4 separate regions of the Homo sapiens genome follow, and all the other regions are linked to region 1. Evidence: fine-mapped expression QTL. A gene starts in region 1. Each other region holds a variant in brackets. All regions are shown on one strand. Distances are from middle to middle. Region 1 holds the start of ZBED3 (zinc finger BED-type containing 3). Region 2 has its middle 23 kb from the start of AGGF1. Region 3 overlaps PDE8B (phosphodiesterase 8B). Region 4 overlaps ZBED3-AS1 (ZBED3 antisense RNA 1).

The links. PIP is the estimated chance that this variant, and not a neighbour inherited with it, causes the effect. A credible set is the group of variants that fine-mapping cannot tell apart.
Region 2: its variant is the best candidate, but not a certain one, in a credible set for the expression of ZBED3 in monocytes (Fairfax 2014, PIP 0.62).
Region 3: its variant is the best candidate, but not a certain one, in a credible set for the expression of ZBED3 in thyroid (GTEx, PIP 0.86).
Region 4: its variant is the best candidate, but not a certain one, in a credible set for the expression of ZBED3 in lung (TOPMed, PIP 0.81).

The regions. Positions count from the first base shown.
Region 1 is chr5:77,084,017-77,092,162 of GRCh38, reverse strand. It overlaps ZBED3 (zinc finger BED-type containing 3), which reads left to right and starts at 4,878. Exons shown (of 3, transcript NM_032367.4): 1 at 4,878-5,052. It overlaps ZBED3-AS1 (ZBED3 antisense RNA 1), which reads right to left and starts at 5,448. Exons shown (of 3, transcript NR_182763.1): 1 at 4,544-5,448. It also overlaps a transcript of PDE8B not described here. RefSeq lists enhancers at 3,415-4,015, 4,016-4,618, 4,619-5,220 and a silencer at 5,037-5,206.
Region 2 is chr5:77,003,086-77,011,231 of GRCh38, reverse strand. No RefSeq gene overlaps it. Among named protein-coding and RNA genes, the nearest start is that of AGGF1, 23 kb to the left of the region's middle. The variant G/A (reference allele first, on the strand shown) is at 3,358.
Region 3 is chr5:77,216,694-77,224,693 of GRCh38, reverse strand. The region is part of intron 1 of PDE8B (phosphodiesterase 8B); the gene reads right to left. Among named protein-coding and RNA genes, the nearest start is that of PDE8B, 10 kb to the right of the region's middle. The variant T/C (reference allele first, on the strand shown) is at 4,695.
Region 4 is chr5:77,120,155-77,128,300 of GRCh38, reverse strand. All of the region lies in intron 2 of ZBED3-AS1 (ZBED3 antisense RNA 1), which reads right to left. LOC124901008 (a long non-coding RNA gene) reads left to right here. Exons shown (of 3, transcript XR_007058827.1): 3 at 517-593. It also overlaps a transcript of PDE8B not described here. Among named protein-coding and RNA genes, the nearest start is that of ZBED3, 37 kb to the right of the region's middle. The variant C/T (reference allele first, on the strand shown) is at 4,860.

The DNA.
Region 1 (8,146 bases):
TAAAAAATACATCTTGTTAAGATAATAAACATATAATGCCAGGAATCCAAATCCTACTCTTTTTCAAGCCTTGATTAAATGCTGCCACTTTCAAAAATATGTAGCCATTCTCAATTTATTATGGCACTTGAATATTTCCTCTTATATAATTTTTCACTTTCTTCTTAGAGTTGCATATGTCTTACTGTCATACTGGAGTGTAATCCTCTTGAGGGCAGGAATAGTCTCCAGACTCCTGCTTAGGCTTAAGATGGTGCTTTGCCCATAACCAGCACTTACTAAAAACTCCTCTATGAACTAATGAAAATATCATGTATCTCATTACGTGGTCAGTTTAAAGTTAAATGGATTCTTTTAGACACTCAAAGCAATAAAGCTTCTTCTTAAAAGAATTACCAGATACAATAAACTGTAAAAAATTGTTCAAATATTGAAACATGAATTAGAGATGACTTTAACCTGATTTGTTTATACTAGTTACTTTTCTTTTTTATTTATTTATTTTATTTTATTATTATTTTTCAGACAGAGTCTCACTCTGTCGCCCAGTCTGGAGTGCAGTTGCACGATCTCGGCTCGCTGCAACCTCCGCCTCCGGGTTCAAGCAATTCTCCCGCCTCAGGCTCCCAGGTAGCTGGGCTTATAGGGACCCACCACCACACCCGGCTAATTTTTGTATTTTTCTAGTAGAGATGGGGTTTCACCATGTTGGTCAGGCTGGTCTTGAACTCCTGACCTCAGGTGATCCACTCGCCTGGGCCTCCCAAAATGCTGGGATTACAGGCGTGAGCCACTGCACCTGGCCATTTATACTAGTTACTTTTCTTTTTCATTTTTTTATTGATACGAAATATTTGTATGTATTTATGGGGTGCATGGGATATTTTGATGCATGCATACAATGTGTAATGATCGTCAGGGTTATCAGGATACCCATCACCTTGAACATTTATCATTTCTTTGTATTGGGAACATTTTAAATCTTCTCTTCTACTCGACATCACTAATTAGCAGAGAAATTGCAAGTCAAAATGACATCACCTCACACCTGTTAGGATGACTATTATCAAAAAGTCAAAAGACAGCAAGTATTGGTGAAGATTAGAGAAATGGGGATGCTTGTACCCTATTGGTGGAAATGTCAATTGGTGCAGCCATTATTGAAAATAGTATAGAGAGGTTCCTCAAAAAATTAAAAATAGAACTACCATATGATCCACTAATACTACTATTGGGTATATTTCCAAAAGAAATAAAAATACTATCTCCAAGAAGTATCTGCAGTCCCATGTTAATTGCAGCATTATTTACAGAAGCCAAAAGATATGGTAACAATCTAAGTGTCCATCAACTGATGAATAAAAAAAGAAACTGTGGTGTGTATTCACACATACACACACACACACACACGGATATTATTCAGCCTTAAAGAAAAAGGAACTCTTACCATTTGCAACAACATGGATGTCTTAGAGAAGAGTATGCTAAGTGAAATAAGCCAGACACAGAAAGACAAATACTGCATGATCTCATATATATGTGGAATCTTAGAAATTAAAGTCAAACTCATAGAAAAAAAATCTTCTCTTCGGCTGGGTGCGGTGGCTCACGCCTGTAATCCCAGCACTTTGGGAGGTTGAGGCGGGTGTATCACAAGGTCAGGAGATCGAGACCATACTGGCTAACACAGTGAAACCCCGTCTCTACTAAAAATACAAAAAAATTAATGGGTGTGGTGGCGGGCGCCTGTAGTTCCCTTAGTCCCAGCTACTCAGAAGGCTGAGGCAGGAGAATGGCATGAATAAAAACACTAGCTCCACACAAGCTCCCGGGAGGCGGAGCTTGCAGTGAGCCGAGATCGTGCCACTGCACTCCAGCCTGGGCGACAGAGCAAGACTCCGTCTCAAAAAAAAGAAAAAAAGAAAAAAATCTTCTCTTTGGAAATACAGTCACCCTTCCGTGTTATCAAAAACTAGAACTTATTCCATCTTATCTGTTTGCTTGTACCCATTCACCAACCTGTCTTCACTCCCCCACCTCTACACCCTTCTGCTCTCTACCTCCATGAGATCAACTTCTTTAGCTCCCACATATGAGTGTGAACATGTGATTTTTGCCTTTCTGTGTCTGATTTATTTCACTTAACAAGATGGCCTCTAGTTCCCTGCATGTTGCTGCAAATGACAGGATTTCATTCTTTTTTATGGCTGAATAGTGTTCCATTGTGTATATATATCATATTTTCTTTACTGATCTGTTGATAGACTTTGGTTGATTTTGTATCTTGGCTATTGTGAATAGTGTGGCTATAAACGGGAGTACAAGAATCCCTTTGATACACTGATTTCCTTTCCTTTGGATAAATAACCAGTGGTGGAATTGATGGATCATATGATAGTTCTATCTTTAGTTTTCTGAGAAGCCGCCATACTGTTTTCCATAATGGGTGTATGGCTATACATTCCCACCAACAGTGTACTCATTACTTTTCTTTTTATCAGATGTCCGTAGCTGTAAGTGTCCTTTGGGCCAGAAGAAAAGTAGTAACCTAATAGTTGGCCTTCACATTGCAAAATTATCCCTTTGAACAGCAATCCCCAACCTTTTTGGCACCAGGGACTGGTTTCGTGGAAGACAATTTTTCCATGGACAGGGGTGGGGAATAGGTTTGGGATGATTCAAGCGCATCATATTTATTGTGCACTTTATTTCTATTATTATTACATTGTAATATATAATGAAATAGTTATACAACTCACCGTAATGTAGAATCAGTGGGAGCCCTGAGTTTGTTTTCCTGCAATTAGACAGGCCCGTCTGGGGGTGACAGGAGATAGTGACAGATCATCAGGCATTAGATTCTCACAAGGGGCACACAACCTAGATCCCTTGAATGTGCACAGTTCACAATTGTGCTCCTATGAGAATCTAATGCCCCAGCTGATGTGACAGGAGGTGGAGCTCAGGCGGCAATGCTAGTCATGGGGAGCGGATGTAAATACAGATGAAGCTTCCCTCATTTGCTTGCCCCTTACTCAACTCCTGCTGTGCCACCAGGTTCCTAACAGGGTACAAAGGGTACTGGTTCATGGCCCGGGGTTGGGGACCTCTGCCTTTGAAGATACCCAACCAGTTTCTTCCTCCAAAACCATTATTGGAATGGTGGATTGTATTATTGTACCCAGTTATTTCTTGTTCTTCTTTTAAGGATATTATTCAGCTCACTTATTGTTGATAGGGACAGTAGACAGGGAACTACTGGGTAGAATAAGGCCGTTCCCTGGCAAAGGCCCCACCCTCAAGCCTGGAAACCCATGGCCCTAAATGAAGAGAGGCATTCCCGTTCTTGTGCCCAAAAGTTACCTTTTGGCCCTCCATGACCCCCTATCCTGTACCCGTATAAACTCCAGACACCAGGCTCCAGCAGCAAAAGATGAGCAGATGAACAGAAGAGCAGAAGAGCAGAAGAGCCGCAGATAAAGAGAAAAGAGAAGGAATATTGGGTGGAGTTCAGCTGGGGACAGTTAGAGAATCCACCGCTGGACGGTTAAACTCCAGGGGAAGATCATCTCCCTACTCCACCCCCTTTCCAGCTCCCCATCCATCCTACTGAGTGCCACCCCTACCACCTAATAAACACCCCCAACCTTCCCCCAACTCCTCTACCCCCGCCCCCACCCCGGCACTCACCATCCTTCAAGTCCATGTGTGACCTGATTCTTCTGGGAGGTGAGACAAGAGCTGAGATACAGAAACTGTCACACTGACCCTCTGCGCTTGCAAAAAGGCAGAGGGTCTATTGAGCTGGTTAACACTTAAGCCGTCAGCTGATGGTAAGGCTAAAAGAGCACACTGTAACACACGCCCATTTGGGCTCCGGGAATCACGGGATCCTGCCCCTGGACACTGCCGTGGGGCTGGAAGCCCAGCGCCCCAGCTTTTGCACCCTGGCTCCTGCACCCGTCCGTCTGCATGCTCCACCTCCCATAAGGGGTTTCAGCAGGCAGAGACCGAACACACGAGCCACAACCCTGTTGCACGTCCTGCAAAGGGCTGTGGGAGGGCGGGGGCCGGGAGGAAATCAGGGAACTCTCCTGTTTCATTGTCACAAGACTTGCAAGGCTTCCTTAAGAGAGGGGTACACTTCCCCACCCACTGACAGCAAGTTTTGACCAATAGAAAGTGAGCAGAACTGAGGCATGCGGAATGTGAGTTTGGAAAGCAGCTTGTGCCAGTCATGTACAGGAGCTAATTGTTAAATTTCCAGGAACTTGGCAAGCCACTTGTTGGACTGTTTGTAGCTTGAAATCGGCCATTGTGGGAGCATTTACATCATAGAAATAGCAAACACTACATATCTGGACTTCCCCCTTCTCCCTCAAAGTTGGTTTACCAGCCCAGCAGGGAGCATGGCCCAGAAAAGTTGACCTTTCAGCCTGGAGTGAAGAAAACTGGTGGAGTACTGCCAAAGCTCCCTGCAGCCACAGTAATTCGCTTGAGAAATGGACCTTTAAGCCACTGAGTTGCAGGGGTTGTTCGTTACCTGAGCATCATCTAGCCAAAGCTGGTACACCATGCTGGTGTTTTGGTGAACACCAATAAGCGCCGCCTTCATCTGTCCCAACCTAGGTTGGAGGGATTTCTTCCAATAACTTGTGACATCATGCGCCTACAGCCTGCAAAGATGCAAACCGCGCTCTGAGACTCAGGCCCGGGAATTCAGGTCTTGGAAGGTTAATGCAAAGTTGTAAAACAATAGTTACATTTCAACCACACTCAGCTATTGCGTCATCTTAAAACCCTGGCCAACACAAATCTGTCGCTCGCGATCCTTGGCGGTTTCAGAGCGACTCCCCTACCGCTTTCGGGCGAAGGCCACACGTGACGGCCCCCCTTTCCCCGCAGACGTGTGAATGCAGCGCTGTGTCTTTAAGGGGCACGCGCGGAGGTTTTCCGTCCGGGACAAAATGTCAGCGAGGCGCCTGGAGGGGGATCTACCATCTCGGACTCCCGACCCGCCGCCGGCTCCGGCCGCGTTTCCCGGGTAAAGGGGTGAGTGTGGGCTTCCAGACTCGGTGGCGAGGCGGGCTGGGCCGGGCAGCGGGGAGCGCAGGTGAGCAGCGACCGCGGACGCCCCTGCCGGCCTCCCTGGCACCCGCGCGGGGCGTGCCCTTCGCTGGGCTGCCCTTCTCCGGGCCGGCTGTCGCGACTGTGAGAAAGCAGGTGGGCCCGGGATTCTGTGGCAAGGCCCCGCTCACCGTCTTCCAGTGCCTCATTCTTGCTCCTTCCCTGCACTCCTCTTTCGACAAGCTTGTTCGGAATGTGGAAATTCGTCACCACTCTCCTGCTCTCCCTTTATTAAAGTTGTCTGATTACAGTCTTTTCACTGGGCAAGTGACTGGACGCCCTGCAGTGGGTTCTTTCTGTAACTGGGACTTGCTTGATGTCGCCCACTTTCGGAGGGAGAAAGCGAATGCAAGCCAAAAGCTTACACCAGAATCCCCACCCCTCCCCCACCCCTCATGGCCCCCAAACAAAAGAATTTTCCGCTCCTTTCGGAGTCCGCTGGAGCAGTTTCTGTGATTTCTTGCACGAACCAAATGCCCGAGGCTTAGCAAAGCAAAAACCCCCTTGAAGGAAAAAAATAAATACTTACCACTAGTCGAATTTCTAATGAGCCAAGACTACAAAGATAAGGTGTTTAAGAGAAACAGTTGTAGAAACAGCTTAATACATTGACCTAATTAGGGTAATTATTTTCTGCTGTTTTTATTCATATGCTGACACCTTTTGGAGGCAAGAATAGCTTGAGGCAGCCAAGAATAAAAAAAAAAGTAGACAGCAATACGTATTATAAAAAGACCAAAAGCCCAAGCCAGGTAATTCTCAATTTAAAAATTAAATTAAAAAAATCTTTGAGTCACAAAGGCCTTCAAAGTAGGGCAGCTTTAAATTCCTATAACTCAGATTAAATTATGCATTTTTACAAGATAAAATGGATCACCACCTTAATCTTTAGGACCATATCTATTAAGCAAAGTAATGCAGACCTGAAATAAAGGTCCACTTTAAGGGCAGAACACTTCACAATTTTCATTTTTAAAAGTGCATTAATAGAGAGAGAGAGTGCTTCTCTGCCTTTTAGCTAATGGTAGAAATATCTAAGAGTTTGGCTTATGCCATTTAGGAAACAACTCTGATTCACCCCTTAATTACCTGTGAGTCCAGTGTATTTTTTACAGTCCACATATAACCTTTTTCTAAATTTTTACACATTTTACCATTTATTCCCCAACTCAGGTTTTACAGTTTGGAGGCATTTTTACTTGTCTTTTAACTTCAGCTAAGCCTTCAGCCTGGTGATTCCAGACTAATTTTTCTAATTGTCTGGATCTCTTTATAAATAGATTAATATATGGCAGTAAACTAATATTTCAACAGAGATGGACGGATAACAGATGAACTGTGGTTTTCTTGACACTTCAGTTGTCAACTCTAATTACTTGTATTAATTATTATGCTCTGCTTTCATTAAAGTCACTGGTGGATGAAGTAAAAGAAAATGTTTTTAGTGTTTCCACATATGTCTGTGTGAATTTCACGTTAGTGTGAATTTCTCATCTAAGATCCAGGCTCAACCAACATATATTGATTTAAACTCTGCCTGGTCAACCCAACTACAGTAAGTAGCCTTGAGTATAGAAGGACAAATAGAGGTGTAGTTAATCTGCTATGTCCTTTTGAGAACAGTGCCTGGTTCTTTGGCCTTTAGCCTGCCAAATATTTTTTATGTGCACAAGCATAAGTATAAAATAATACAATCAACTTTTGTAGGTGCTTTATAGGATGAGTCTCAATATTATAGTCATACCTTGTGTATATGCCCATGTTTATACAGATTATTCATCCAGGTTTTGATCTCTTCCTTTATTCTTTATATTGGTATTCAGGGACATCATACTGAGGAATCTGGGATTTAATCTGATAGTTCATCAGAAGGATAGAACTTCTTCAGAAATTGAGTCAAATGGAGAGATAATTAATGTGAATTTATTGTCTTCCACAGGCTTAGATTTAAGAACTCCTTCCAAATAATGGATACTCAAATGAAACTCAGCTATAGCAAGTGCAGAGGCATGGTACCAGCAACACTACTCTCTCTCCTTCCTTGAAATATCTAAAATCTACATTTGTCTTTTCAGTTTTTTTCACCCTGAAATTACACTCAAAAATTTCCACTGTTAATTTCATGTTAGCAGTGCTTTTATTTAGCTTCAAGAAACTTTCTTTTAAAATAGGAGCTTGGAAGCCTCGTTATACAACTGAGGAACTGGAACTTCATTAGAGTCGAGTACTAAGGGTAATGTGTTTTGGTGATGGACAACAATGCGTTTGTGCCCTGTGGGGCATGGGAGGGGAAGGGATGCTGAACTGCATGAACTTTTGTGTTAGGGCCCCTAAGACATCAGCTCCCAGGAGCTGCCCATGCCCACCCCTTCCCCAGTGGAGATTATGTGACGGAATTCACCCGAAGGAGTGAGCACTGATTTCACCTTTACCACAGTGTGTTAGTAATCTGTTTTCGCGCTGCTGATAAAGACATACCCAAGACTGGGCAATTTATAAAAGAAAGACGTTTAATGGACTTAAAGTTCCACGTGGCTAGGGAGGCCTAACAGTCATGGCGGAAGGCGGAAGGCGAAAGGCACTTCTTACCTGGCTGCGGCATGAGCTATAATGAGGGTCAAGCGAAAAGGGCTTCTCGTTTATAAAACCATCAGATCTCGTGAGATTTATTCACTAGCACAAGAACAGTATGGGAGAAACCGCGCTCGTGATTCAATTATCTCTCACCAGTTCCATCCCACAACACGTGGGAATTATGGGAGTAGGATTCAGGATGAGATTTGGGTGGGGACACAGCCAAACCATATCACACAGGTATCAGAATTATTGTTGGAAGCATCTCTTTCCCAACCAGACCGTACGCTTCCTGAGGGCAAAGACTATGTGACGTTCCTCTTGGAATGCTTGGCAGAAAGCACGCACCTGACCTTAGCAGGTGCACAATGAGCATTTGAATGAGAGTTGGATGGAGTGAATGGATGTAAGCAAAATACTCATTCATTGGCATCTTTGTGTTAGT
Region 2 (8,146 bases), 81 kb after region 1:
AAACCCTACCCTTGCTCCCGAAAGAAGAGTGTGTGCAAAAACTGGTGAAATTTGAGTATGAACTGAGTCTAGTTAATTGCATTGTGCCAATCAATTTCCTGGTTTTGATAGTGAACTGTAGTTATGGAAGATGTCACCATTGGGGTAAGCTAGGTGGTGGATACCTGGTACCTCACTATACTGTTCTTGCAACTTCTTATGAATCTACAATTATTTCAAAATAAAAAGTTAAAAGAAAACGCTTTGACACCAATATTATTTTGCCCATGAGGAAATTGAGGCTTGGTGAGAGGTTAAGTAACCTGCCTAAGGTCACTCAGCTAGTAAGTGACAGTGTGATTCTAACCCAGAGCCAACCTCCCATCAACATAGATTATATTATTCAACATAATCTTTAAATAAAATATATGGGATGTGTCCAGGTTCCAATATGATCTGAAAAGTATGTAAATAAATTCAATTATACGATGGTGCTTGAAAGTTAAAACTGCAGCATACTTAAAACTTAGTATAGAAATTGTGACCGGTCTGTATCAAGAAACAATGAGATGATGGCACTCCATTTTATAGGTTTCTTTCAGCAATGAATTGTAAAATGTCAACACTTTCCTTTTTACTATTGAAATACCAGAGATCAGATTAATGGTTATATAAAGGTTTTATTCATTTACCAAGAAAAATTTTAGATCTGAGTCATAAATAACAGACAATGCACTTATTTTGTACAATTTAATCCTCTCTAATGGCAAAAAAAAATCTGGCGACACATTTCCAGAATTCTAATTCCATTGTAAGTAGATGAATCATAGCACTTTGTATGACATACTTGTTAAAAAGCGTTTTCACTTCATTTAGTCTTAATTGCAGTGGCGATACGCAGTGCTGAATCGATTGAGTACTCATATCTGATCTCAAGGTCTATAAAATGTCAGAAACACATAGTAATCAGAGATCTAGTACTTTTTCTTTAACATATTATATGTCTATAGAATTAAATTCATAAATACAATCTTTACAGTTTTATTATCCACTTCATTTCATTTTCCAAATGTTCTCAGTTACTTTTACCCTTGGCTATTTCTTTTATTTGGTTTAGTGTGACATGGTCTTATAGAACTTCTGATAATTTGGTATCATAGGCATAAATAATCCAGGATGCCTGGGATACATTTTAGTGCGACTGTACTCTGACTGGATTAACGGACAGGAAGAGACTGAGATGTCCTCAGCATGTGGTTGCCATATTTCTCATTTCCTTACCCTTAACTGTCTTTACAGAGCAGGTTTTTCTGTAACAAGTAGGAAGATGGTGGCCCAGTGCGGATAAGGGCACACCGATTGTAACTGATGGTGGCCCAATGTGGATAAGGGCACATTGCACCTTCACCTTAGCCTGCAGTGATGAAAACCAGCAGTTTGGTTTCATCAGCCAATGACCACAGGTATAGCTTTTAGAATTGGTTTTTAGTTTATCTATGTAAAATGCTACACAAATTATCTGATTATCATTTTCAAAGAGAAAAAAAGGAAAGAAAGGCTAGTCTGAACTCATTAATATTTTTGAGCATTCTAATTAATAAACTTCTGTGTTACAAGTTTACCTTCATTTTTGGTCTTATTCACTGTGATGATGGCAGTTTCATAAGTGTTTCTTTACAGTTGACCTGGAGTTTGAAGATACCAAGAAACTTCTATAGACAATGGATTCTACTCAACTACTAGGTGTCTTAGAATGTGCTTGATCATTTAAGTTTCTAGTATATTCTCAGATATATATTACTTATTAAGAGAATTAGAGTCGATGAATAAGTAGAATTTTAAAAATTATATTCCATATAATTTTATTAGGGATACAGTAAAGATTCTATGTAACCAGGTACCAGGTAACTCTTCCACATCATGATGAAATTAGGGGTTGCTATAACCACTTAGGATAGTGTACATTCCTTTGATGAGTGGCCTCAAGCTAACAAGATAGTAGAAGTCAAGAAACAAGACCTCGATTGGCTTTGTAAAGACAAATATTGGGAAGTTATGCATGTGTGTATTAGTCCATTTTCACACTGCTGTAAAGAGATCCCAAGACTGGGAAGAAAAAGAGGCTTAATGGACTTGCAGTTCCGCATAGCTGGGGAGGCCTCGCAATCATGGCAGAAGGCAAGGAGAAGCAAGTCACATCTTTTTTTTTTTTTTTTGAGATGGAGTCTTGCTCTGTTGCTAGGCTGGAGTCGGCTTGCTGCAAACTCCGCCTCCTGGGTTCAAGCAATTCTCCTGCCTCAGCCTCCTGAGTAGCTGGGATTATAGGCACGTGCCACCACGCCCAGCTAATTTCTGTATTTTTAGTAGAGATGAGGTTTCACCATGTTGGCCAGGATGGTCTCTATCTCTTGACCTCATGATCTGCCTGCCTCGGCCTCCCAAAGTGCTGGGATTACAGGCAAGTCACATCTTATGTGGATGGCAGCAAGCAAAGAGAGAGCGATTGTGCAGGGGAACTCCTCTTTTTAAAACCATCAGATCTCATGAGATGTATTCACTATTGCAAGAACAGCACGAGAAAGATCTGCCCATGATTCAATTACCTGCCCCATGATTCAATTACCTCCCCATGATTCAATTACCTGCCCCATGATTCAATTACCTGCCCCATGATTCAATCACCTCCCCATGATTCAATTACCTACCACTGGGTTCCTCCCACGACACATGGGAATTTTGGAAGTTACACTTCACCATGAGATTTGGGTGGGGACACAGCCAAACCATATGAATGTTAAAAAAGAAGATCCCATGAGTTGATACTATAGGAATCTGAAAGTTAACAATTCAGTTGCCATTATTCACTCAAAAATCCTCAGCAAATATTTATTGTCTGTCTAGTAGGTGCACAGAACTTTGCTATGTCCTGAGGGAGATTCAAATACAAGTAACAGATTCTCTACTGTCAAGGAGCTTAATTTTTGTTATCATAGAGGCACACGTCTAAACAATCAAAATTAACCCAAAGGCAAAATGCTGTAGGAAAAGCACAAACAAGGTGCTGTGGGAAGAAGGAGGAAGAAGTCAGTGACTCCTGACAAGATGCTGACAATCACAAAACAGAGGACCAGAATGAGAAGGTGACCCAGTCACCAGTTAGGAGGCACTTGGAGGCGGCCTTCAGTGCCACACCCAAACCAAGCCAAAGGTCTCTGATGCCAGAGCTAAGTCCCATCTTCTACTTGTATCAATTACCAACTACAAGCTGAGACTCTTGAACAGTCTTCAGTGTAAACAAATTGAAACAAACAAGAGTTCGTGCTGATGTCTGGTATTGAGTGTTCATCAGGCAGTATATGTACATGTTGTCATTTGATG[G/A]ATGAAATACATTTCTTGTCATTGGAACCAATATACCCAGCAGAATTCCCAGCGTATTGCAAGCAGCCAGGCAAGGCCAGCAGACAAGCTGAAAAAATGTGTGGAAGACAATTTAGGAGAAATAGAGCCTGGGCACCCATTTTAGGGAAGCAGAAAATGAAACTTTTTCTTTCTGGGGACTCCATCTGGGCTGAGCTGTTTAGGTGTCCAATGGACTAAGACACAGAGGCAGTGAAAATGGGAGACAGTGGCTATGACTGTGGAGGAGGCATGCATCTCATCACCAAATTACACTGCAGATATCCAGCAATGGACCAGTTGTTACTTAGCAGCACACTCTGCATTCTCTCTCCTGCTTATCGGTTTCATATAGAGATAAACGTTTTCTGCTCAATTTCAGACCCTGTTGCAAATTTTCCTCTGTCCTGGAGTGCAATCACATGGTTAAAAAGAGGATGCAAATGGAATCAATAATTACCAAAATCATTAAAGTCCAAAGGATCTTGATAATGAATGTTCTCTTACAAATAAGCAGCTACAGGGATTAGCAGATGGATGTATCAGAATCTTAAGAATATTATAAGAACATCAAATAATAATCTCATCCTTGTCTCACTCCATGCTTACATTATTGTTCATCTTACTTTCCTTGATTAAGAGGCTCAAGAATGCTTTTCATCATTTTTCCAGTGCTAAATATATACCTATTTTGCAGCAAAACATAAGGACTGAAATCATTTTCTGATATGTAATACCGAGTAGGATGCCAATTGTAGCAACTTATCAAAGGTTGAATTTTCCAATTCCAAGGAATAAAATTAAATGTAATAAAGGTGTGAACAAAGGAGTAGCTAAGCACTGTGAGTGCAGCACCCCTCAGGGTTTATCCTACTTTTCAAGCCCTCACAATAAACCTGTCCATTCTGCTTAGCAAGCAGGCTGATCTCTTTCCCGAGCTGGTAAGAAAGTGTTACCTTGCTGTTTATCTGTAGTAACATATAACTCTTTTGCAACTGGAGATAGCTCATTCATTTCTATTACAGCTTACCTTGCCACTAAAATATGCACAGAAATGACTTTCTTTATGCAGTGATGTTTTCTTGGGGAAGGTTATTTGACAATAGGATTGTTTCCTCACTGAGTTGCATTATAATTTCATCAATGAGTTCAATGATCTTTTTCTAATGGCAATAATTTGATTTTTAAATTTTTAAATTTTAAAATGTTCTAGTATTAAACTGCTTATTTAGGGTGGATCATATGTGTGTATGCAATTTTTCCAATTATTACGAAGTACCCAAAAAAATGTAAAATGTGGTCTCTGTTCCTCCAATAGCCTGAAATCTAATTATGGAAGCAAGACATACAGACTTTAAACAATTGACAAAGTAGGAAAACAGTGATTGAGTGCAGACAATACCCTCAAAGGAAGGGATGGGAGTAATCTGGAAGAAATAGGTCTTCAGCTGGACTTGACTGACAGAGAATATTTAAGTAGGTGAAAGGGAATGAGGAGGGCATTTCGGGCAGTAGGCCAGCCTGGGAACATATCTGGAACCACTACTGGGCCTGGCTTAGAGGTGGGAGGATTGTTTGGCAAATAGAAACACTGGGCATGTACACATGTAGTGATTTACCCATATGTTAGTTTTCTATTGCTGCTATAACTAATTACCACAAATTTAATGGCTTAAAACAACACAAAGCACAACAACATGGCACATGTATACATATGTAACAAACTGCACGTTGTGCACATGTACCCTAAAACTTGAAGTATAATAAAAACAAATAAATAATTAATTAATTAAAAAATAAAAAATAAAAAACAACACAAAGGTATTCTCTTACAGTTGTGTAGGTTAGAAGTCTAACACGAGTCTCACTGGACTACAGTCAAGGTGTTGATAGGGCTGTGTTCCTTTCTGAAGACTCTAGGGCACAATTTATTTCCTTGCCTTTTCCATTTATTTGCTTGTGGCCTCTTTCTTCATCTTCAAAGCTAGCAACGTTGCATCTCTCTGACCTTTCTTTCAGAGTCACATCTCCTCTCTCTACAACCTGGAGAGCTTCTCTGTTTTTAAGGACTCATGTGATTACATGAGGCTTACCAGGATAATTCCAGAGACTCTTCCCATCCCAAGGTTCTTAACTTTAATCACATCTGAAACATTCTTTTTGCCACATAAGGTACCATATTTAACATTGCAAGGATTAGTATGTGGACTTTTTTTGGAGGGAGAACATTATTCTGCCTACTACCTCATTTGCAAAATGTTTTTATAAGTGATATCATGGAGAGAACTCGGAAGTTGATAAGAAAGGTAGATGATAAAAGGCTTTGAATGTTATGATGGGATTAAATGCCATCCACACTGGGCAGCCCTTGAGTGTGAACAAGAAAGAGATATAATGATATCAGTGCTTTAAGATGATCTGTATGAAATTAATGCACGGGTTGGATTGAAGTGAAAGCGATAAGCTACTCTAAGGAGAGCAATTAGCAGGTTATTGCTATAATTCTAAGTTTGGGTGTAAGAACCCAGACTAAAGCCATAATGGGAATTAGAGAAAAATTTGGGAAGAAGATTCAAGAAACTTAGAAACTAATTAACTTACAGGGGATGAAGAAAAGGGATGGACATTATATTAATTCTTTCTCTCCTCTCCTGTCAGGTAGGCAATGATCAGCAAACTGGTACTTTAGACCAGTAGAAAAGCCATTGCTTTAAAGGATCTTGCAGTGAAAATTTTTGCAAAGACAAAAAGCTTTTAAAAATCTCACATACTAGCATATTATGATATGAATAATATGCTAGTATATAAGTCAATTTTATGCACAAAACACACATACTTGAGAATAAGTAGCACATTAAAATAATAGTTTTTCTGTGTAGCCAGTGCAACTCTAAAAACAACCTTTTGTAAAAGTCATTGAGAAAGTTTGGGTTTCCATGAAAGAAAGGTTTAAAAAAGTTTCATTTTCCAGAAAGCTAAACCCTATTATAAGCTTCCTTGGAAAGTGTTTCCAGTGAAAAAGAGAGAGAAGGGAGAGGTTAATAACTTTGGGAAATGAGGCTCCCTAATTGTCCACTTTCAGTTAACTCATAGAGCAGTCTTCCTTGGTTGGGGCACATGGTTCGGGAAATATCTGTGTGACCTCAAATACAGGGGTCTGCCCAAGACCCAGGCAGCCCTGTTCATCAGGAGCCCGTACTGGAGCCAATCATCCTATCAAATTTGGCCCTACTGACTCAGGATTCAGGTTACTTCATTTCATCTTCACCAACAGAAAAGCTAGAATTCAAGCTAAAGGTACGGTAGCCAAAAAGATGTGAACAGAGCAGAAAAGGGCAAAGTTATGCCAGACAGGATGCAGATGCTTGTGTGTGTGTGTGTGTGTGTGTGTGTGTATGTGTGATGCATATGCATGTATATGTATATGTGTGTGTATTTGTATCTTTGTATGTGATATTTATATGTATATATGTGTGTATATTTACATGTATGTGTGCTTGTATCTTTGCACCATGTTTCTGTTATAAAACACTGAATGATGCTTGATTAAAGTAACAATACAATACTTTAAATTGCTGCTTTTCTTAAAAGTCTATGACTACATTAGCATAGATTCAAAAAATTTGGGGATGTTTTTTACATTATATGAATTTTTAAGTAGTTATCCATTCAATAACTACTAATCACAGGCTTTACCAATTTGCTGTGGAACAATATAAGGAACTTCACTTATTATCAGTTTATTTCTGGCAGGTAATATTAATGCCTCAGAAGACTTTCACAGATATTTAAGTCATCAGCAATATAGATTGAGGCCAGGTGCGGTGGCTCATGCCTGTAATCCCAGCACTTTGGGAGGCTGAGGAGGGAGGATGGCTTGAGCCCAGGAGTTCCAGACCAGTCTGGGCAATGTAGTGAGACCCTGTCTCTACAAAAATTACAAAATATCTATGTATATAGAGAGAGAGTGAAAAAAGCAAGTTGTAGAATATGTAGAGTATGATTGTGTTTTTGTAAAATAAAAAAGCTATACAAGTGAACGTGTGTGCATTGATCTCTGGAGAGAAAGAACTGACTCAGGCAGGGAGAGTATGGACCCTACACTTTTTCTTTATAATGGTTTATACCATTTAACTTATATACAGAGAGAGTATGTTTATATGTGTGTTATTTTTCTAAATGATTTTTTAGTCTAAAAAAAGAGAAAAAGAGTTGTTGTATTGTAAACATTATTTGCAATTGTTCAAAATAAACTTTTCTAGATATGTGTAATTAAGTAGTCAAGACCAACAGAGTGATGCTGTCTGTGTTATTGTCCAGTCAGGCTGACCACAAGAGTCAAGGCTTCATATCTGCCTCCTCATATCTAGTGTTCTATAAATAGTAGGCAACCCACAATACTTCAAATCGCTGCTTTATCAGGATATGCCCTCCACAAGTATCAGAGTATGCTCCTCAGGCAGTATGGCTGAATAATCACATGAATCTCACCCCACAAAGCTGATCTTTGAATTAACTGTAAGTACTTCATATTAACTCAGCCCAATAAGTATATTAAAACTAATTGTTCACCAGGAATATAAATGCTTAAAGTGTGTGTAATTTCCAAGAAGTTGTACTAGCCAAATCCAATAAATATGACTTGATCTGAAATTTGGCAAAATTCCTAAGTGAAGATATACAAAGCTATGACTGTTTGATGATAGCATCTTTCTCCCAGTACCGAAACCTGTATCTTTGGACTGATTCAGTTCAGTTTAGTGCAATAGAG
Region 3 (8,000 bases), 130 kb before region 1:
AAAAATCTTTAAATGAAAATGTTTATGAGATAGGGAAACTTCAACACTGTCTTGTATTTGATAATATTAACAAATTATTTTAATTTAGGGATTTGCTAATAGTATTGTGGTTGTGTTTTCTAAACAGTCCTTCTCTTTCAGAGTTACATACTGAAATAGTTACAGCTGAAATAAGAGGATGTTTTAGATTTGCTTTAAAAGAATCCCAAAGTATGGGGGAAAGTAGGAGGTATAAATAAAAGAATAGTCTTAATTTGTTACTGTTGAAACTGGGGGATGTACACGTGAGGTTTCACTATCCTATTCTCACTACATTTGTATACATTTGAACTTTTCCATAATAAAAAATGTTAAATTATGAGCCTTCAAAAATCGGCTTGTATATTATTATCAATAATAAGCAATATTTACTGGGTGTTACATTCAAAGCTAGCAATGGTACATATATTGATTATATCATCCTTGCAGTAACTCTATGAGGTCAGAACTTTCACTATCCTTATTTTTCTATCCTTAGACAGAAGAAGTTGAAAATTAAAGAAGCTAAGCCATAGAACCAACAGATGGTACATACAAGACCACAGTACAGCATAGTTCTCTGACATCAGATCCCAAGTGTCCAGTGAGAAAAGCAAGAACCATTTTATATATATTAAGAAGAGATACCGCTGTAGTGAACTGTTTACAAAGGTGTTAGAAGGTATGGATGAACAAAGGGAAGATGGAGGTAGAGCTGGAGAAACTAAAAAGATAAAGCAGTAACATCCAGAGACAATAAACTGTTAACACCCTGGGCTGACACCCGCCAGCCCACACTCATGCTGATCAGCGGAGGGGGCTGGCATCATCACCACTCAGGCAGCACCACTGCCACTTAGCAGGGGCCACTGCTATCGCCTGTTCCTTTCTCTCACATTCCAATTTCCTGCCAGTATCTCCTACCTGTGGAATCTAAGAGGAAACCATCTGGAAAAGTAATGTGGAAGATGCAGCTTGCAGACTTCTAGCCTCATATAATACAAAGGAGAAAATGGGGAAGCAAAAATGGAGCTACAAACTAAGAGACAAAAAACCAACACCACTACTGTGCTATGCTTGTCAAGTTACAATGTCAAATTGTAAATGCTTGACTTAGAACCTTGATGTAAATTTCACTTTCTTCCTCCGTTTTTCCAACATGGTAGCTACTTGTGTGGTCATTATGCACTTGAGATGTGGGTAGTCCCTACTGAGATGCAGTGTAATTGTAAAATACATTCCAGACTTTAAGAACTTAGTTCCAAAAAAAAAGAAAGAATGGGTGGGGGGAGGGGGGAGGGATAGCATTAGGAGATATACCTAATGCTAAATGACGAGTTAATGGGTGCAGCACACCAGCATGGCACATGTATACGTATGTAACTAACCTGCACATTGTGCACATGTACCCTAAAACTTAAAGTATAATAATAATAAAATAAAAAAAGAAAGAATGTAAACTATCTCATTAACAAATTTTATATTGAGTACATGTCAAAATAATATTTTTAATATACTGGTTAAGTGAACATGTACTAAAATTAATTTACCTGCTTATTTTGACTTTTAAAAATGTGATTCATAAAAAATTTTACAATTACATGTGCAGGTTACATCTGGGTCACATTTTATTTCTATTGGGTAATGCTGCTTTAGAGCTTCAACCCAAAGCAAGCCTTATCTGGCAGTCTCTGAACCATAACACCCAAGAGTATTCTCAGCCATCAACTCCACCAGACTTTAGAGTCCTTCTTAATCAGTTCTCTTGGATCCTATTTATGTCTGGCAGCTTTGAGCTCCAGGCTTAGAAAGCCTGACCTTAATTCTGCCTCTGGCCCCTGCCTGTGGCCGTACAGTTGTCTGCTCCTTGGCTTTTCCTTACAGTCTTCAGCTGACTTACCCCTCAGGCTCACAGTTCTTCATGCTCTCCCAGTAGGAGTGTCTCACCTGGAAGAACCCAATTCCCAATCCGTAACTCCTGCCAGCCAGCCGGCACTCAGTCAACACATTGCCTTCCCACAGAAGACGACAATATAGGGCACAAACAATGGAAGCTCCCGAAACGTGGAACTATGTCATATTCTGTTTTTTGAGATGGAGTCTCCACTCTGTCACCCAGGCTGCCTCCCAGATTCAAGTAATCCTCCTGTCTCAGCCTCCTGAGTAACTGGGATTACAGGTGCAAGCCACCACGCCCAGCTAATTTTTGTATTTTTAGGAGAGATGGGGTTTCACCATGTTGGTCAGGATAGTCTCGAACTCCTGACCTCGTGATCCACCCGCCTCAGCCTCCCAAAGTGCTGGGTTTACAGGCATGAGCCACCATGCCCGGCCATCATATTCATTTTTTTTATCACTCCAAACCTAGAGTAGCGCCTTAGTATAAGGCAGAAAATACACACACACGTACTTGAGAACCTAGCGGGTTTACAGGGACTGTACCTCTAGGTTGTACCAATCCTTTTAGAGATGCATTATCCCTACCGTGCAAGGAGAAATCATGCAGCTTCTCCAAAGTCACAAAGTTTGTACAGGGCAGAGCTGGAATTCAAGCTGGAGTCAGTGAGCACCTTTCCTTCACACCAGGTTACCCTTTTGCAGCCACAAAAATTATAGCAAAGGAGCTGCAAGGGGGCCTTGTGAAATGCCTCCTTTCAAAAGCTCCATGATGTTTGGGGCCTTGGCATGACTAGAGAGGGCTAGGTGGACACCAGGATGTGCCTCCACCCCCAGGGTGGTCAGTGGAGTCCCCATCTACAAACAATGAGTTTCGAATAAGGACACACTCAACTTAGCTAGAACTGTTTCTTCAAGAAAAGTGCCTCACCAACTTGAATAAGCTCCCTTCAGTCAAAACTGGGCAGTCTAAGCACAAATAGGTTTAATAACTGCAATGCATCAACACATCAAATACACATAAACCCATAACGATTCATAATGATACTAAGCAAATTAACAGGCAAAGAACTCCTGTCACCTTAGGAGAATGCTAGGGAGTCAACTCTTGAAAAAAGTTTCTTGAGGCATTCCAATGAATACATGAAGACAAAATGATAGCATATCACCATTTTACAACCTCTAATGACTAATGGATATAAGCAATGATCGTTAATAAGAGTTAGCATCACAGAAAAGAGACAACCAAACATCCTACAAAACTTCGCATACTCCGATTTTCTGTTAGCATCACAGAAAAGAGACAACCTCCACCCTACAAAACTTAGTATAATCCAATCAAACCTCTAAATCAAACTACGGTTTCTAGCAAACACAGAAGGCAGGGAAACATGTTAGATGCATCATGGGAATGCAATAAGTAAACTTTAGATTGGGGGAAAATCTACAGGACAAACAACCCAGGTTCCTCAACAAACAAACTGCAAGTATATAGAAAAGAGAGACTGGAAGGGGAAGCTACAGATTAAAAGAGACTTAAGAGGCATAGCAACCTACTGCAATGAGTGGAGTTACTGTTTGGATACCAACAAACAGTAAAAGAATAAGTAGTAAGACAATTAGAAAAGTGTGATTGATATTAAGTTGTCATATTTTTGGTATATAATGGTTTTATGATTTATTTTTAAAAACAGTTCTAGTTAAAAGATACCAACTGAGCTATCTGTAGATGAAACAGAAAATAAGTGCCACAAAGAAGCTCGACACACCCCTTTTTACCTGGAGATAAAATAGGACAGTGAAAACAGGACGGTTGAGCAGATGTAGCTCTGAGTCCCTAGCTGTGTGACCTTGGTCAAGCTACTTGAGCCGCCTGTGCCTCCACTTCCTCCCTAGCAATGTGAGGTTAATAACACCACCTGAGCCCCTCAGCTCCCCAGCACACAATGGATCACTAAAGATAACTACTCCCTAAAGGAACTTCACGAATTCTCCCTCATCTGCTTCATCAGCCTCTAATTAAACCCGCTTCTCCCAAAGGACACCCATACAAAAGAAATGGGAGTTCTAATTCAATTTTATGTTTCTTTCACAGCAATATTGTTTCAACAGTGTAAATATATTCCAGCTACATAATGGGCTAAAACTTTTTTGTGCTAACCTAGAAACCTAAATGCCACATATAACATGTTTCTATATGAAAGTCTTTCCCCAATAACAACTAGGTGCCTTACAAACTAATGTTTGTCATATAGTCTGCATATAAAAGTGAACACTGCCTTTCACGTTCATCCAAAGCATTTCCTGGTTGTGTTTTAGGATTCAAAGTTCTCACCTTTGATATAATAAGAGATTCCAACCTTTTGCCCCACCTCCTTGTCCCTTCTTGAAAATCTCAACAAAGTCTGCAAAACTCCCCTCTACCACTGCCCGTAGGGAGATCAGGCTAAGTGGATCACACTCCCTTGCCCTCACCTGTTCCTCCCAAGGGATGAAGGCTCCACAGTCAGTCAGCCAGTCCCAGGGTTTGACAGTCCTAATGGGCCAGATCACTGCAGAGAACAGCCTGGGTGTCAGAGACCTCACCCTGGGCTCCACATGTGACTGAGAAGAAGGGCAGGGCAGCAACCACAAGGACAGGAGGACCTGCAAGAGTCTACTGGGTGAGGAGGGGTCCTGAAACTGGCTTCACAGACCCAGCATTATAGATGTGGGAGGGGGAGAGCAGGAAGTCTCCTGAAAACTTACCCGCCTAGGTGTTCTGTCCCAGCAACACTTCC[T/C]AGAGCAGGTGTGTGCACGTGCATGCATGTGTGTGTCTGAGGCTGCACATGACAGATGGATCTGGGATGAAAGGTTGTATCCACCCAATGCTTGCACAGGCACAGACTAAGCTGATCCTTGCTCCCTTCAGTCTTTATTTGGCCATCCTTCTTTTGAGCATCACACTCTCGACTGTGGGGGAAAGAGACTTCTAGTTCCAACTAAGGCTCAGCTCCAAACACTATTGGTGGCTTTTGTTTCCTTGCAGAGACCCCATTTCTCGGCCAAGACTGTCAATCCATTTTTTAAGCTGAAAATGAGTATGTCCCACAAGGCCCCAGGACCACTAGTGGCTGAGGTGTGGATTGTTGGGTCATCACTGGCCTTCATAAATGTATTTGTCTCTCCATTTGGTCATTGCTCTCGTTTGAAGCTCCCTCAGCAGGAACCCTGGAGTGGACAAAAGCTCTGGCTATCCTGAACCCTTGTCATCACCTTCCAGTTCCGGAGCTTTAATGCTATTTGTGGTTCTGACGTCAGAACGGCATCTTTTTCTTCATATGGTACCCTGGGTGATAGGTTGCTTTAAAATCTCTCATGCATCTTCCTATAAAAATTTCCAAAATTTAGGGTCTTATCTCAGTTTTATGACTCACACAGGCAACTGGGTCCCTGGAGCTAATCATTACATCTTCCTATTTGAGAGAAAACAGGTTTTAGATGTACAGTGTATCATTTTCCCAACAATATACTGTGTCTGACAGCACCCAAAACGCAGCAATATGAAAACCAACCGAGCTCATGCAAAATGCTTCTAAGAGCAATTAGAGACTGAGGCTTCAGGCTACAAGTTTATACCAAAGAATTCCACAGGGAACCACCTCAGGATAACACCAAGGCCTTGACCTGTAAATTCTGCTGAGTGCAGGCTCAACAGTCATGGAACCCAAACCCCAGCTTGGGCCTTGGACTGGCAAGATTCTACTATGTCATCTCTGGAAATCCAAGTGAAGCAGACAAAACCCATGTCTGTGGCAGCAGTTTGCAAGGCTTTGGGATAACCTATCTGTCTATAAATCCAGTTAGTCATCTATTGGCCAAATCAATGTACTTGAAAGTGTCGGATATATTTTCCATTAAAAAAATTACATGTTTCAAAAATATCTAAATCTAAATAACCAAAATCTCATTTTGATTACCCAAAGAGTAATAATAGCAACCATAAAAATAAGAGCAGCTACTATTTGTACAGCACTTACAAAGTGTCAGGCACTGTGTTCAGTGAAAATAATGACAACATGTTGTACCAGAGCTTGTCACATTTTGTGTGCATTTTTTAATTCTTCTCCAACTTCAAAACACTCTAGTTCAAGTTAATAGAAGGGGTGACAGTGGATATGTGAAAGGAAAAATCTCACTCACGAGGCTCCCTGCTCCCCTTCCCTCTGCCTGTTTATCATCCTTCTGCTCTAAATAACTGCAGTTCCAGGACCAGCCACACTTAGGGCTTCAGGCTGTGTGGCCACAGGCCTGAGTGTGCAACACACTTAAGGGATGGGCTCATGGGGTGAGAGACCATTCGGACCCTCTTGCCTTCAAACTTCAGTCCTCGCCTTGGGAAATTTATCCCACCTCTTGCAGCCCCATTTTCCTCTTTTCTAAAGTGAAAATAATAACGTGTAGCTCATAGCAGAACAGGGAAAATCATGCAGATTTGGTGAAACAATGTAAATAAAGTGCTCAGCAAATAGCAAGAACTTAAATAACAACTAATATTATTATAGCTATCCTGTTTACCTTGTTGCAAAGTGTACAAACCATGCACTAAAACTTAAATCGCCTTGGAAACAAGAGACAACCATGAAATATTCTTATTTTCATTGATGGATTATCCAAAAGCAAAATAGTTCCTTGATTTTTATTACAGCAATCACAAGCTTCTTAAAGCAAATTTGCAGCAGGGTAGGCTAATCCTACTTCAGGAACTACTTTTCTGTGCATTCTCCCTAAGGAGGGGGAAAGGAGGGGATGAAAGAAATCAATGGTAAAGAGTAAAACAGAAAAATCCTAAATAAGAGTTGACTATTATCTGCTGATGGAAGAAAAAAAGAGACTAGGGAAGGAGCCATGAACAACTAATTTTAAACTAATATATACTACAACTTGTTGAAAAGTAGTGTTTTGGGCCAAGCATGGTGGTTCACGCCTGTAATCCCAGCACTTTGGGGGCCAAGGCAGGTGGATAACTTGAGCTCAGGAGTTTGAGACCAGCCTGGGTAACGTGGCGAGACCCCATCTCTACAGAAAATACCAAAAAATTAGCCGAGGGTGGTGGCACCACCTGCAGTCCCAGCTACTCGGGAGGCTGAGGCAGGAGGATAGCTTCAGCCTGGGAGGCGGAGGTTGCAGTTAGCTGAGATCACACCATTGCACTCCAGCCTGGTGACAGAGTGAGACCTCATCTCAAAAAAAAAAAAAATTGGTGTTTTCTACTAAAACATAACTACCAAGACTTCCACTGTAGGGTAAAGGTAACACCTATCTTTAAAAATAAATTCCTGGACACATTTTAATATTTTTAAATATGTTCTAAATGTACACATTCTTTATTGAAAATATAACCTTACAAGCACATAGCAAAATCCTTTTTTTTTTCACTTTTTGAGTCTGTGGAGAGAAGGTTATAGAAAGTGGGAAAGTAAAAACTGAGAAAAAAAATGGAATAAACTGATAAGACAGGGTCCTGAGTCTCTTATGAGGCTCAGGTCTTTCTCCCCCATTCCACCCTTGGGCTTTGAGTTCAGGATAGGGAGAAGGACAGCAGGCAGGGGACAGAGGAAGTGATAAAAAAAGTGTATCAGCAGTCAGGGGACAGAATGAACTGAAGAGAAGGATATGTTTACAGCAATAAGTTCGAGGTCTCCAACCAAGATAACTGGACATATTTTAATATCATTAGTCATCAAACAGGAACTGTAAACAGTGAATTAAGTGGCCATTTTAAAATGCCATTATTTTAGACAATCATCAAACTGCCCATCACAATTTTAGTTTATCTATACCGAGGTAGCTCCAGTGACACTGAACATCTCTTATTGCCTGTTACGAAGAGCCTTTGGGATATGCTCAGGATATTTTTCATTTGCCCCTCCAGACCCACTCTCCACCCTGCTCAGCACCCTGGAAAACCCCAATCAACAGATTCCTTTTCCCTCTGGTTTCCAGATGTGGAAACCAGCAGGAGCTTGATGAAAGGGAGGACAATGTCATGAAGGGACTTACTGCTTTGGCTCCCTCCCTGTCCACTCCTGAAGGCTACAGCTTCT
Region 4 (8,146 bases), 36 kb before region 1:
CTGTAAGAGAAGAACGTTTTTCTCATCATTCCCATCACAGCTTGAGTGGTAAGTGCAGATCCAGCAGCAACACAATTAAGGTTCTCACCTGTGGTGGATTGGGATGAGGTACAGGTGGAAGGGAGAGGCTCTGGGTCAAGTGGTAACTATGGTCCTTGGACAATATGGAGGCAATTATAATTGTAAAGGAATGGGGAATTCACTGGCTTTTGTTAACTGCTTTGAAAGTCTCAAAATAAGAAAATGACAGGGTCATGTTAGACAACTATCAACTCAAGCCCACGGTGAAATAGAGCAATGGTTAAAAGAATTTGATCTCCTGCAGGCACAGGGAATACTGTCTTGAAGATTAAGACAACAGTTGACAAAGTCATAGAGGAGACAGAACGCCAAGCCTTCACAGATCTCCTATTTCAAAGTTAGAACCCTGATAGGAAAAGCTTAAAATCTTAAGAGCTGGGATAGGATAGACAAGTCTGAGAATATTGAGTCACTAGATTAATTTTCATCCTCTAGGAGAGCAAAGTCAGCCTTCTTCTCCTTGCTGGGGACATCAGCCTCATCTTGCCAGGAGACCCTGAAAATACCTCACCTGAATCTTGCTTTGCAAAGTGATGTCTGTCTTCCTCAAGGTCTCCTTCCATCTCCAATTAACTGACTCCATGATAACTGGAGTCAGGTTTTGGCTCAAGCAGGTGGGGAAATGTATCCCTGCTGCAGTAGGAAATAGTTTACTAAAGAAACTGAAGGACCTGGGGTATTAGACTGTTCTCACACTGCTATAAAGAAATACCTAAGACTGGGTAATTTATAAAAGAAAGAGGTTTAACTGACTCACAGTTCTGCATAGCTGCAGAGGCCTCAGGAAACTTACAATCATGGTGGAAGGCAAAGAGGAAGCAAAGACCTTCACAGGGTGGCGGGAGTGAGAAGTGTAAGCAGGGGAAATGCTGGATGCTTATAAAATCATCAGATCTCGTGAGAACCCACTCATTATCACGAGAACAGCATGGGGGAAACCTCCCCCATAATCCAGTCACCTCCCTCCCTCAACACATGGGGATTACAGGCCCCACCCTCAGCACATGGGGATTACAATTCGAGATGAGATTTGGGTGGGGACACAGAGCCAAACCATTCACCTGGGTAATGTATACAGGCAGGAACCTGGATAAGCTTGTGAAAGTGGATCTTGAGGATGTTGCACTAGGGTGGGTGAGTGGAATAGAAAGCTGGATAATGGTGAATTTATTGACCTGGGAGCACCCTTCCTTGATCAGAAAACTCAGTGTCCTGGCAAGGATACCTGTAGCAATACACTGCAAGAGTGATTTCTTGAGGCTTGGACAAAATAGTGGCCTATAATAAATAAAGTCCAGAAGCTGCAACTTGCCTGGACTGGAGCTTGCCATAGCACTAAGGAAGGAGTCAGAAAGCTCAGGGATGTGAAAATATTAAAGATATTTATTTTTTCTTTTGATTATGTATTTATGACAGATTTCAGAAAGTTTTCATCAGGAATTCATAGAAGCAAAATGTAATTAAATTTCTACAAGCATTTATCTTCTTAAAAGTTTGTAGGGCCGGGTGCTGTGGCTCACGCCTGTAATCCCAACATTTTTGGAGGCCAAGGCAGATAGGATTGCTCGAGCTCAGGAGTTCAATACCACCTAGGTAACATGGAGAGACCCTGACAACAAATTTTAAAAGAGCCAGGCATGGTGGCACACACCTGTAGTCCCAGCTACTCGGGAGGCTGAGGTGGGAGAATCACCTGAGCCCAGGAGACTAAGGCTGCAATGAGCTGTGATTGTGCCACTGCACTCCAGCCTGGGTGACAGAAAGAGACCCTGTCTCAAAAAAAATAAAGTTTGTAGGAAACACAGATAGATCTCACTTTTCAAAACTGAATTCCATCAAGCTCTTCAATTTTTGTCATCCTCCTCAAATGACGTATATTGGCAAATAAGGCACAATTTATTCTTGAACAGTAGTAACTAACTTTTTTTTTTTTTTGAGAAAGAGCCTTGCTCTGTCGCCCAGGCTGGAATGTAGTGGCACAAACTCAGTTCACTGCAGCCTCCACCTCCCAGTTCAAGCTATTCTTCTGCCTCAGCCTCCTGAGTAGCTGGGACTAAAGGTGCCCACCACCACACCTGGCTAATTTTTTGTAGTTTTAGTAGAGACGGGGTTTCACCGTGTTAGCCAGGATGGTCTCGATCTCCTGACCTCGTGATCCGCCCACCTCAGCCTCCCAAAGTGCTAGGATTACAGGCGTGAGCCACTGAGCCCGGCTGTAACTAACTTTTAAGAGATTTAATTTTATTGTGGTAAAATATACAGAACATAAAATTTGCCATTTTAAGTGTACAGTTGAGTGGCACTAAGTATATTCTCACTGTCATGCAACCATTCCCACCATCCATCTCCAGAATTTTTTTTATCACCCTAAACTGAAACTCTGTTCTCATTAAACAATAACTTCCCAATCTACTATTCCCCCAGACCCTGGAAACCTCTATTTTACTTTCTGTCTCCATGAATTTGTTTGTTGTAAGTACTTCATATTAATGGAATCATACAATATTTTTCCTTTTGTGGTTAGTTTAGTTAGCATAATGTTTTCAAGGTTCATCCTTGAAAGGATGATGTAGGAGATACCCAAATTTCTTGTCTTTAAAAAGATGAATAATATTCCATTGTATGTGTATACATCCATTCGTCTGTTTTGACATTTGAATTGTTTATGCCTTTTGGCTTTTGCAAATTAACACTTCCGTGGACGTTGGTGTACAAGTATCTATTTGAGTCTCTGCTTTTAATTCTTTGGGGGCATATACTTAGGAGTGGAATTGCTAAATCATATGGTAATTCTCTGTTTAACTTTTTGAAGAACCACCAAACTGCTTTCCATTGCAGCTGCACAATTTTATATTCCCACCAGCAATGCACAAGAGTTCCAATTTCTCTACATTCTTGCCAACAACTGTTATTTTCCTTTTTAAAGAAAACAGTGGGGCGTGGTAATCCAAGCACTTTGGGAGGCCAAGGCGGGGGAATCATTTGAGGCCAGGAGTTTGAGACCAGCCTGGACAACATAGAAAGAATGTATCCCTACAAAAAAAAATTAAAATAAAAGAATTTAGCTGGCATGGCGGTGCATGCCTGTAGTCCCAGCTACCCCAGAGGCTGAGGTGGAAGAATCACTGAAGCCAGCCCAGGAGTTTGAGGCTGCAGTGAGCTATGAGTGCCACTGCATTCCAGCTTGGGTGACAGAGCAAGACCCTGTCTCTTTTTCCTCAAAAGTGAAACAAAACAACGTGAAAATCCTAACAGGTGTGAAGAATTTAGAAATTTCTTTTACTATTAATTCTTCAAACATTTTTCTCCCTCCTTTTTCCTTTCCTTCTTTTACTTCAGATGCACACATGATATTGTTCTCCAGCTCACTGATGTGCTGTTTCTCCATCTTTTCTCTGTGCTTCACTTTGGGTAGCTTCTTTTCCTGTGTCATTATGTTCACTGTTCTTTTCTTCTGCAGTGTCTAATCTGCTATTATATCTATCCAGTGTATTTTCAATTTTGGATGTTGTATTTTTATCACTAAAAGCTTGAGTTTAGTCCTTTATAAATCTTCTATTTCTTATAACTTTCACGTCCTTTCATCTCTTTATATAAGAAACATATTTCTTTCTTTCTTTCTTTTTTTTTTTTTGAGACAGTGTCTCACTCTGTCACCCAGGCTGGAGTGAGTGGCACAATCTCAGCTCACTACAGCCTCAACCTCCTCAGCTCAGGCGATCCTCCCATCATAGCCTCCCAAGTAGCTGGGATACAGGTGTGCACCACCACACATGAATAATTTTTTGTATTTTGTGTAGAGATGGATTTTCACATTGCCCAGGATGGTCTTGAGCTCCTGGGCTCAAGCAATCCACCCGCCTCAGCCTCCCAGAGAGCTGGTATTACAGGTGTGAACCACCAGGCCTAGCCAACATATTTCCAATAGCTATATTAACCTTCTTGTCTGATAATTCCATAGTCTCTGTTGTTTCTGGGTCTGAGTCTTGTGACCAATTTTTCTCTTGACTGTTCTTCATATTTTCTTTTTCTTCATATGTCTATTAATTTCAGATTAGATTCTAGATATTGTAAAGTTTACATTGTTGGGTGCTGAAATTCTGTATTTCTTTGAAGAGTGTTGAATCTTTTCTGTTGGACTTTTACTTGCAGATTAGTTTGATCCTTTTGAGGTATGTTCTAGGCTCTTTTAGCGTGTTCTAGAGTAGCATTTATTTGAGAAATAATTTAGCCCCACTTCAAACTGTTGCCTTTCCAGGATTTTTACTGAATGTCGTGTGTATTCACCAAGGTCTGTTTACTCTGACTAGAGGGAACTCAAATGATTCCCAGCTCTGTGTGAACTCTGGTTATTGGTTATTTGTCTCACAGCTTACACAGAACTATTCTTTCCTTGAAAGTTGTTCTTGTCCAGTCCTATGGGATTTCATCCTATTCCTGACTAGTTTGGTGTTCAGGCAAAGAATCAAGAGTCTCACCGTTGCCCAGGCTGGAGTGCAGTGGCACCATCATGGTTCACTGCAACCTCTGCCTCCCCAGGCTCAGGGGATCCTCCCCCTCAACCTCCCAAGTAGCTGGGACCACAGGTGTGCACCACCACACCCAGCTAATTTTTTGTATTTTTTGTAGAGACAGGATGTCGCCATGTTACCCAGGCTGGTCTCAAATTCCTGGGCTCAAGCGATCTACCCACCTCAGCCTCCCAAAGTGCTGGGATTACAGGTGTGAGCCACTGCACCCAGCCAAAGATTTCTTGAGAGCTCTCCTCTCAAGTAATG[C/T]TATGGTTTGAGTGTTTGTCCCCTCTGAAACTCATGTTGAAACTTAATCCCCACTGTAACAATATTAAGCGGGGGGCGGTGGGGGAGGAATTCAACTATAGTATTTGAGAGGCGGCACCTTTGGATGTCATTAGAATGAGATAAAGTCACGAGTGTGGGACATGAGTGGCTTCGTGAGGAGCTAAGCTAGCATGCTTAGCTCCTTCTCTATGCCCTACACCACCTCGGGACTCTGCAGAGATTGCCTACCAATAGGAAGGCCCTCCAGATGCACCCCCTCAACCTTGGACTTTCAGCCTTCAGAACTGTGAGAAATAGATTTCTCTTCATGATAAACTAAGTAGTCTCAGGTATTTGGTTATAACAACAGAAAATGGACTTAGACAGGTGCTCTGCCTTATAAATCATAGCTACCTTGGTCTTCTTGAACTATAATCTCTGTTCAATTCAATGACAACACTTTGTATAATTTCATCTCCCTGAATCACAATCTTGGAGCTACCTGCAGGCAGAAAGCCTACACCAGGGTGTATTTTGCCCCTTTCGTTTCCTTTTCATGGGGATCACAATCTCGTTGGACTCTTACCCAATGTCTTAAAATAGTTTTTTTCCTACATTTTGTTTAGTTTTCTAGTTGCTTACTTTCAAAATGTAATTGCAGGCTGGCTTACTCCTTCATGATTGAAAGCAGAAGTTTTTGAAAAGGATTTTTAGTGTCAGCTCAGGCTCAGGTAGAACGACCTGTTGGTAATGACACTGTCCTCCAAAATATTGTATATATGTGCTAAAACAATAGCTGATACATGGTGTTATGTTCCCAGTGTCTAGCAACATTGGTCCAGGAAACATGAGGTAGAAGTAGGATTGCCCCCCTCACCATCACTTCTCATGATCCACTTAAAAGTGTTGTGCATTTCCCATCAAATGAGCCTAGGTTCTGCTGAATTAATTGTCCCACTTTCAGGTGGGTGAATGTACGCACTAGCAGAAATGATAGCGCTTCCATTCACCTTAAAGTGTGATTATTGTTTTTGAATTTTGGGTTCCTCATGGCAGTAGACCAGCAAGAAAAAAGAGGTGTTCCTATGCTGAAAAGAGTAATCGACTCTGATTACCATGAAGAGCTAAGGCTGCTGTTACATTATGTGTGCAGGAAGGACTGTGTCTAGGACATAGAAGATTCACAGGGACATCTATTGATGATTCCATGACTGGTGATGGTGGATGGGCAATCGCAGTGATCATGACTTTACAAGGTCAACTAAAGGCTCAGACCCCTCAGAGGTAAAGTTTTGAGTCAGCCATCAGGAAAGCAACCTACATCAGCCAAATAATTGGCTAAGGTTAAGGGAAATCTAGAGCAAATGGTGGAAAATGGAGATGACAAGTACTATTTATGGATTTGGAACCTGTTGCATCAGCAGGGAATGTAACTTGTTCTATTCACCTTCCTGTATTTAGTGTTTGTAGGATTTGGAGCTAGCCACTCTCTAGAAGAAGACTCTGGGCAGACTGGACTTAATGCAGAGCACAAAAGTCCTAAGAAGTGCAAAGGTGAAACGTAATGGAAATCTGTTGTGGTTTCCAAACATGTTCTCAACTTCTTTGATGTTCCTTCCTTCAAAAAGTGAAGCTAGGCTGGAAGCGGTAGCTCACACCTGTAATCCTAGCATTCTGGGAGGCCGAGGCGGGTGGATCACGAGGTCAGGAGTTCAAGACCAGCCTGGCCAATATGGTGAAACCCCGTCTCTACTAAAAATACAAAAATTAGCTGGGCGTGGTGGCGCACGCCTGTAGTCCCAGCTACTCGGGAGGCTGAGGCAGAAGAATTGCTTGAACCCGGGAGGCGGAGGTTGCAGTGAGCCAAGATTGTGCCACTGCACTCCAGCCTGGGCAACAGAGCGAGACTCTGTCTCAAAAAAAAAAAAAAAAGGAAGCCTAATTCCCTTCTCCTTGAGTGTGAAATGTACCTAGTGATTCACTTCTAAATAATAAAAGGTGGTGGAAGTGACAGCGGGTGATTTCCAAAACCAGGTCATAAAAGACATTGTGACTTTTTCCTCCCCCCATAATCACTCACTCTGGGGGATGCCATGTGCCATGTTACAAGGACACTCAGCAGACCTACTGTGAGGCCCATGTGGCAGGGACACTGGAGCCTCCTGCCAAGGGCCATGTAATGCACCACCTTGCAAGTGGATCTTTCAGCCCCAATCAAGTTTTCCGATGAATGCAGCCTTGGCTTGAAATATTGAATATAATGTCATGGCAGACCCTGAGCTAGAACCAGCCAGCTAAGTGACTCCTGAATTCCTGACCCACAGGAATTGTGGAGAATAGCTGTTCGTTTGTTGTAAGACACTAAGTTTGGAGGGTAATCTGTTAAGCAGCAATGAGTAACTAACACAATACTTCTGGAGCACTTTCCATCCTCTTGTTTGACTCTTGGTTCTGCATAGGCTTTGACCAGCTACACACAGGTGCAATCTGAAGCATGCCACATCAGCCCATGCATGCTGTGTACTCTAGCTCCCTACCCTGGGAATTCTCTAAGGTGCAGGGCACCTGCAAGAGGGCTTTAAGCACTGACACAAGGAGAAAGAAGCCAACAGATAAATGTTTTCCCTTCCACCACCCAGGTGTTAGGTTCTGAAGTAGATTTCAGAAAACTCCTCAACGGTCCTGACAGGCTTGTACAACAGTTGCTCAGTTGTAGCCAATGTGATCATGTGTTTTTGTTTTTACCTCACTTTTTATTATAAAAATGTTCAAGCATACAGAGAAGTTGAAAGAATGCTACAGTCAAAACCCATATATCCCTATCTAGATTGTACAACTAATATCTTATTCTATTTCTTTTATCATACGTATATCCATTTATCTATTATTCTATCCATCTACTAATCTATTTTATTTTTAATGCATTTCAAAGTACTTTTCAGATAACAGTATAATTCACCCTTAACACTTCAGCATGCATATCATTAACTAAACTTCAGTATTCATTTATGATGTCTTTCTTTTAAGGCAAAATTTATATTCAATAAAATGAACACTTGTAAGTGTACCATTCAGTAAGTTTTGAAAAGTACATTGACATGTGTAACCCAAACTCCTTTGAAGATGTAGAGGAACATTCCCTCATGCCTGCTCTCTGTCAACTCCTACTTGTACGCCCACATCTGCACAGATCACTATTTTGATTTTTCTTCATTGCAGATTAGTTCTGCCTATTCTAGAACTTTAAATAGGAAAATACCATATTATTTTGCGTAAGGCTTTTTTCA